2 linked regions of the Homo sapiens genome follow. The protein of the gene in region 1 interacts with the protein of each later gene in a biochemical or structural test. Each region holds a gene or a part of one and is shown on either strand. Other genes may lie near its edges.

Region 1 (4,100 bases):
TGGGCACCGTGGTGAAATGCCATCACTACAAAAAATAAAATAAAGAAAAAGAAACTGTTTCCTAGGACTGCGCACTCCCGAAGCTGGCCTCTCCCGAGCCGAGGAGTGGCAGTGGTCAGAGAGGCCCACATGGACTCAGACCCAAGGCTGGGACTGGAGTGAATCATCTGGAGGGCTTGCGTGTCTGCAAGGGCAACGACGCTGGAAGGAGGTGGGAAGTCTTTTGCATGGCTGCATGTCGGGCCTTCTGGGACCCCTAAACACTCTTGTGTGGACGGGAGGATGTCTGTGGGAATCCCAGAGCTGGCACTGAGGAGGAGTCTTCCGAGTGGGCGGAGGGGGATGCCTGCCAGGCCCAAGCCCTCCTGTGGGCAGCCCCTGCAGCACCCCCATTGCCCTGCTCTGTGAGTGGCTGCTGGTGGGGGGGCACAGTGGTCTGCTTGTCTCGGTCTTCTGCACTGCCACTGCCAATGGGAGCTTGGATTAGGCATGCCAGCCTCCTGACGCCCAGAGCCCATGCTCTGCCCACGTGTGTTAGTGGACGGTCCTCGTGACTGCTGGGACTGTCCTGGAGAGCAGCCCAGGACCCCTCACATGGCACAAGATGCTCTTGTGTCCAGAATGGCCTTTATTTGTTGTCAGGGACAGGGGAGGGAAGCTTCTTGGTGGAAGGGAGAGGCTGAAGAATGAACAGCCCCGGGACCACTTTCTCTGCCAGGAGGTGGCACTGGGAGAGGATAGGGACTCCGGAGGGGTGTACCGTCCTCCAGGAAGCCCTCTGCTGGGTCGGCTCCGTGCCTCTGTCTTGGGAAGTGATGGACTTGGTTGCCTTATGCTGACTGGGGTCTGTCACAGATCTTGGTTTTCCCCAGGAGTTCTGGAGGCCCAGAGCCTGGGTGCGGCACCCGGTTCATTGGGGAGGGGCATGGGTCCTGTGCCCTCCTCCTGGCCGGGCTCCACCAGGGCTAAGCTCTCATCTGGGGCTGCGGAAGTGAGCCAGGGTGGGGACAAAGCCCTGGCTGGTGGGTCTGGGCCAGTTCCAGGTACAGGGTCCAGATCCCCCCACTGCAGCAGGAGGGAGCTTCCTGTTCAAAGCCATCTGGCTCTGGGAAGGACAGTGAGGCAGGGCCATCTGCTTCCCCACTCCCTGGGGTCTCTTCCTGGCCGGGACCTGGAGCTGTGCAGCCTGGCCCAGCAGGTCCTCCCTTGCGATGTGTCCACAGGGGTGGGCCTAGGCCTCCAGCTTGCAGTGGTGCAGAGGGCTGGGGAGCAGAGGGGGCCCTGGCAACAGTGGCCAAAAGTCCTGGCGCCGCCGAGGGACTAGATTCCGCAGGGGCTGCCGCCCCCGGCCGCTGTCACTGGGGTGGGGTGGGTGGTTGTTTCTCTGCAGGCCCAGGTGATGTGGAGGGGGCACCTGGGCTGCCACACAGACCCTGGGCTGGGTCGGGCACGGGGCCTGCCTCGCCCCCAGCTCAGGGACCGCAAGAGATGTGGCCCTGGCGGCTCAGGGCGGCAGGAGGGGCGGGCCAGCCCCACCGTCTCAGGATACCGTGCTAGGGGAGGGTTTCCTCGCCAAAGGCCGTCCAGCGGCTGTGACCCCTTCGCCTGGAGCCCCAGCTTCCTCCCGGCGCCGCCCTCCCGCCCCGGCCCCCGCGGAACAAACAAGGCCCTGGCCTCGGAGCTGCCCCGCCGCCCAGCGCTCACAGGTCGTTTATTCCAAGTAAGAAAACGGAGACTGCTCGGGGCAAGCTAGCGGGGCCGAGGCCCAGGACGAGGCCGTACGCGTGTGCCTGCGTGGCCGCCTCTTTTGCAGTGACCACCAACAACGACAGAGGCGGCCCGCTGCACACGCGGGTTCCCGCCCGGACCCACGCCCTTCCCGTGGGGGACGCGGGCGGCATCGCCAGCTTGGCGCGGCCCCGGGACGCGAACGCGTGGCTTCAGCGGCTCCGTCCATGGTGTCCGCCTGCAGGGGGCGCCCCCGCGCCTGCCTCGACCGGCTCGCCCCCGTGCCGCGGACGCGCGCGCGCTGCCTCACGCGACACCCGCCCCGGCCGCCGTCCGTCGTCGCTCGCGTGCGTGCGCGTGCGTGCTGGTGCGGGCGCCGTACGTGCGCGCGCGCGGCGGCCCAGAAAGCGGCGCTGGGACCCTGAGGCGGCCGTGGTTAGGCGGCTCCCCGGCGGCTCCTCCGCGGCGGTGACGGCGACCGCACTCCCCGCTTCCCGCTCCCCGCGCTCCTCCGCCCGGGTCCGCCAGCCGAGGCCGCTCCCGAGCGTCGGAAGATGCCGGCCGTGTCCAAGGGGGACGGGATGCGGGGCCTGGCGGTCTTCATCTCGGATATCCGCAACTGTGAGTGGCGGGGGCGGCGTGGGGCCGGGGCCGGGGCCGCCGGCGGAGACGGGGTCTGGGAGCGGAGGCCCGGGGCGGGGCCTCGAGGCGGGGGTGCAGGCTGGGATGCGGGCGGGGCCCGGGGCCTGAGGGTGCGGGCGGCGCTCGGGGTCTTGGGGTACCGGGTCTGGGGGTGGGGGCCAGGGTGCGGGGTGGGGGTCCAGGGTCTGGGGGTGCGGGCGGCGCTCAGAGTCTTGGGGTATCGGGTATGGGGGTGCGGGTCAGGATGCAGAGCGGGGCCCTGGGTCTGGGGGTGCGGGGTGGGGTGTCCAGGGTCTAGGGGTGCGGGGTCTAGGGGTTTAGGGCACGGCCCTTCATCCACATCTCCACTCCCGTTTGCTGGTCCGTGCGGGGGGCTGCGGCACCACCAAGGGGGTTCCGGGCCAAGACGCCCCTCCCCAGCATGATGTCACCTTGGTCTTTCTAGTACTGGAGCGTTTAACCCAGCGTTTTCCAAAACGGCGTGGATTTTAGCTTTGGGAGCAGAAATCTGGAAATCAGTGTCTTCCCAGGAAACAGCTTTGTGACCTGGGTTCTGGAGGCTTATTAACCCCTGATTAGATCTCACCTACGACGATTAAAATGACTCATTCCCGGAGGGAATCTGGACACGAGCAGCAGTCGGGGTGTGGGATGGCCTCGCTGCCTGCTGCTCCAATCACAGACCTCGTTCTCAGCCCCGTGCCTGTCCCCTCGGGGTGGGAAAAATCCACACCAAACCGTTAAACAAGCCAGGAAGGCTGGGCCTGTTAGAAGGATGTGCAGGGTGGCTGGGTGGGTGCACCGGTCCACCAATTAATTTGACTTTGGTGTGCAGAACCTCCTCTTGGCTTTCAGAGGCCATCTCCTTATTTAATTTGAGGGAGAAACAAAGCCAGTTTCCTGTCTGCTGCGTTGATTTTTTTCCTTGTTATCCAGCAAATAGTTGACTTCATGATTTTTGTTTTTCTTTTTTTTGAGACAGGGTCTTGCTCTGGCTCTCAGGCTGGAGCGCAGTAGTTCCATCACGGCGCACTCAACCTCCCACCTCAAGTGATCCTACCACCTCAGCCTCCGGAGTCACTGGGACTACAAGCGTGCACCACCACCATGCCTGGCTGATTTTCGTGTTTTTTGTAGAGATGGGGGGGTCTCGCCATGTTGCCTAGGCTGGTCTCGAAATCCTGAGCTCAAGTGATCCACCTGTCTTGGCCTCCCAAAGTCCTGGGGTTACTGGCGTGAGCCACGGCACCCTCATAATTTTTAATGTGTATTTTGAGGGACTGTTGTGATCTTCCCTTTGAATTCTCATCTCCTTAGACGGGATGGAGGATCAGGAGGATAGTGGTTCTCCCACACTCTGTGGAAGGGTAGAGGACCATCTAACCCTTCCTGTACTCTGTTAAAAAAAAAAAAAAAAAGCATAGAGCTGGGTGCGGTGGCTCAAACCTATAGTCCCAGCATTTTGGGAGGCTGAGGCAGGTGGATCTTTTGAGCCCAGAAGTTTGAGACCAGCCTGGGCAATGTGGTAACACCCTGTCTCTACAAAAAAATACGAAAATTAGCTGGGCGTATTGGTGTACACATCTATAGTCCCAGCTACTTGGGAGGCTGAGAGAGGAGGATCACTTGACCCCAGGAGGTTAAGGCTGCAGTGAGCTGAGATCGCGCCATACTCCAGCCTGGGTGACAGAGTGAGACCTTTCTCACAAAAAAAAAAAAAAAAAAAAAAA
Region 2 (3,670 bases), on another chromosome or scaffold:
GGTCCCTGGATGAAGGGGCTCTGGGGGACACACGAAATCACAGATGGGAATCTGGGAGTGCCAAGCCCGTGGGAATTGCCATTTATTCCCAAAGTTGCCAAAATCATCACCAAGGATTCACCGAGGGTGCGTGAGCGGGTGCGTGAGGGGAACGAGGAGGCTCAAACACTGACTGGGGGTTGGGAGTTTGGAGGGAGGGGGAATGGGTGGGGGCCCCAGCCACCCCTCCCCCTTCTAATGCCACGGGAAAGGGGTCCTCCTCTGGCCAGCTCCCCTCCCCAGGCCCCATGTCCAGTTTCTCTCCGGGGAGGTGGGGTGGGAAAGGAAGAGGGTGTAGTGTGAGTGGGCCCCAGGAAGGGGAAGGGCACTGGGGGTGGGGATCCCCCATTTCACATGCACTCACAACACTGATCTCCCAGGGAGCCGGAATGGGGCAGCCGGATGGAGCCAGGCCCCCTTCCGCCCTGGATTATAGGAGGAAGGGATTAGTGTTGGGGGCCGGGGGGCCCGGGGGCATCATGGGGGGCAGGCCAGGGCCCCCGCCAAGGGGAGAGATGTACGTGGGTGGCGCTCCAGGGACGGGAGGCACAGGACTGAGACGGAGCTGGTTCAGGGTGAGCGTCGCGGGAGGCGCGGGCTGGAAGGGGTTGGTGACGGAAGGGCCAGTGGCTGGGCCTCCTGCAGGAAGAGTAAACCAGAGACACGGAGTGGAGTCAGTGGCGCAGCCCACCTGTGTCCATCCAGCATGTGCAGGCAAAGGGCGAAGTGTCCCTGCCCCGTGAGGCACCTCCTCTGGTGGAACCCACAGGAAGGACTTGAGCAGGTGATGGGCCCACACTCACCGCCTGGCAGGAAGGGGTTGGAGGCCTTGGCTCCAGGCGGCGTGGGGCCCGGCCGGCTCACCAGCGAGTCCAGGTCGACGAGGGCTGCATTGGGCCCCAGGAATGACTCCGGCGTCTTCCGGGTGGGGGGCGTGGGAGTTGGTGTGGCTGCAGGTGGGGGGCTGCCCACAGCCTCAGCCAGAGATCCCCTGACCCCACTCATGTCAAACGCCCCAGGGCTTCGGGCCGGCACCTCTCCTGCCAGCAGCTCCAGCTCTCCTGGAAGGATCCGGGAGAGGGGCTCAGACAGGGCAGACAGCAGTGAGGCTCCAACCCGGGAGCAGTATAGGCCATCATAGGGGGCGCTTCAAAGAGCCCGGTGCCCAGAGGCCTCGGGAAGGAGGAACTGAGGTGCAGAGCGGAAGCATCGCTTGCCCAGGCCAAAACCTCACGTCAGCCCAGATTCCCATAAGGTGGGTCTGATTCCAGTGAGCAAACACAAGAGGGATGACAGAAGCAGGTGTCACCCTCTGACAACCAGAGGGCAGCAACTGCTTCAGGGTGGGGCCGTCCAGGGTCTATAGGCCCGCGGGGGAAGGCAGCGGGGGCGTGTTCACAGGTGCCTCCAGGCTCAGAGGAGCCTGCCCTCAGACGCTCCTTGAGTACACAGCCCCAGAGGGAGCTTCCAAGTGGACAGACAGCACAGACACGTGTTCCGGGCCAGCGTGAAGACATCTGTTGGCTAGAGGTCTGATTTTCTGTTTTTTTTTTTTTTTTTTTTTTTTCTGAGACGGAGTGTCGCTCGTTTCCCCAGTTGGAGCGCAATGGCGCAACCTCAGCTCACTGCAACCTCCACCTCCTGGGTTCAAGCGATTCTCCTGCCTCAGCCTCCCAAGTAGCTGGGATTACAGGCGTGCGCCACCATGCCTGGGTAATAATTTTGTGTTTTTAGTAGAGACGGAGTTTTGGCCATGGTGGTCAGGCTGGTCTTGAACTCCCGACCTCAGGTGATCCACCCACCTCGAGCTTCCAAAGTGCTGGGATTACAGGCGTGAGCCATTGCGCCTGGCCTGATTTTCCTTTTAAATAGATTTAAGAATTCTACCTAATGTTGAAAAAATGCACACATTTGTATGGGACAAAAAAGGGCCTAAAAGAAGGAAAACTGCATGCTGGAAGGTTGCTCTACGTTAACCTAGATAATGAGAGGAGGGAAGCGTGGGTGCAGCTCACTCCCTGCAAGCTGCCAGCCTTTCATCAGTGGAAACAGGTTTCTGTACCACAACCTGCTCTTCACTAACAGCTCACTTAAAATAAAAATAAGAGATCAAGGCTGACCTGACTCATCATGGGACAGACAGGTATCAGCTGAGGGCCGCGGCGAAGCACCAGTGGCCCACTATGACCTCGGGCACTCCTGACGAAGAGCCACTCAGGACTCAGCAGATGGGCCCGTCACCGGCGATGGGCGCCAGCTTACGCCAGCTGAAAACCCCAAGGAGCCAGGGCAGCTAAAGGCAGCACCCATGAGGACGCACCCTGGCCAGCCCAGGAGCCACCAGCAGGTGAGTGGCGACCCGGAAGGGGAGCCTCGGCTGCCTTCCAAACCCCTGTCCACGCAGCTCACTGCACAGGACAAGACAGTCCGTGTTCTTTGAGACACCTGGAGAGTTTGCAAGGCACTCAAGCAACGTGGAGGCAGAGACGGGTCAGAGGTCAACATTCGGGTGGGAAACCTTGAGAACAATTCTCAGTTTTTCTCTAAGTCTGCAATTTCTCTAAAATAAAGATGCACACTTCTTTTAAAGACAGGTGGATGGTTCTGGCCCACTCTACCCAACTGAACTTTTCATCCCTAAGTCCAGCCGGCCCTGCCTGGAGTGGGACAAAGACAGCAAGGGACGGGGCTCCCGAAGAGCTAGGGGAGGCTCCCTCTCGCCACTGGGCAGGGGAGGGCAGGGGCTCACCTGCGCTGCTCCCGGAGGTCGGCAGTGCCGTGCGGAGTCGGTCAAAGTCAGAGAACTCGTCGGGCTCCGTGTCGAATCCCCCGGCTGCTGTGGGGTCAGGATGTTCTGCTCAGCCCCTCCCTGGGGCCCCGCCTCAGCCCCCACCTCCAGTCCAGGCGTCCACCCCTCCCTTAGGACACTCAACACTAACTTCTCCCACTCACTCCCACCCGGGGCTCCATTCCCACCCCCATTCCAGTACCTGTTGTGCCATTGGTGCTGGGCTTGGCAGGTGACCCTCCCCAGGGATCTGAGAAGGCCGGGGCCGGTGTCCAGGGATCGGAGGCTGAGGGCCCACTGACCGGGACCCCACCTGGGTGAGGACAGAAGAGCATGAGGGGCTGGCAACCTTGACTGCCCAGATGGCTAGGGAGGACCATTGCCTCCAAATCTGTGGCTGTTCACACAAAAGCCCCCCTGCCCCCCAGAAACCCACCCCACCCGGCCTCCCGCACACACACTCAAATTCCAACTGGGCTTCTCTGCCAGGCTCTGCCCCTGGGACCCCAGCTGGGGTGAGGGGCTTCCCCGCAGCCTCTGCCAGACCTGCCCAGCCCTCCCTCAGCTCCCACGGCTCGGCCACCCCTCCCCTGTCCAGCTGGGTGTCAGGCCCCTTCTCCACCTGCACCTCCCAGCTCCACCCACCGCCCTCCCCAGATGCCTACGTCACACACGCTCTGCCTTGGCCAGAGCCTCTCTGCCCCTCGGCTGAGCTGCCATCCCCTCCCCACAGCACACCCCCCATGTCCTCCAAGGCACAATCTCACACACCCTGTGCTGGGCTCTCATCTGACCCCCGCCCTTGCCCCCTCCCCTGCACCCAGGACGCCCCACCACTGCCCG

Evidence for each region.
Region 2: the proteins of AP2A2 (region 1) and EPN1 form a complex in vitro, tested with the Homo sapiens proteins (one study listed by BioGRID).

The regions. Positions count from the first base shown.
Region 1 is NC_000011.10:923,740-927,839, forward strand, and holds the start of AP2A2 (AP-2 complex subunit alpha-2), read left to right. Parts: upstream 1-2,130; 5' UTR 2,131-2,282; coding exon 2,283-2,349; intron 2,350-4,100. UniProt on the Homo sapiens protein: Component of the adaptor protein complex 2 (AP-2). Adaptor protein complexes function in protein transport via transport vesicles in different membrane traffic pathways.
Region 2 is NC_000019.10:55,692,156-55,695,825, reverse strand, and holds part of EPN1 (epsin-1), read right to left. Parts: intron 3,141-3,670; coding exon 3,030-3,140; intron 2,876-3,029; coding exon 2,789-2,875; intron 1,101-2,788; coding exon 843-1,100; intron 679-842; coding exon 470-678; 3' UTR 1-469. UniProt on the Homo sapiens protein: Binds to membranes enriched in phosphatidylinositol 4,5-bisphosphate (PtdIns(4,5)P2). Modifies membrane curvature and facilitates the formation of clathrin-coated invaginations. Regulates receptor-mediated endocytosis.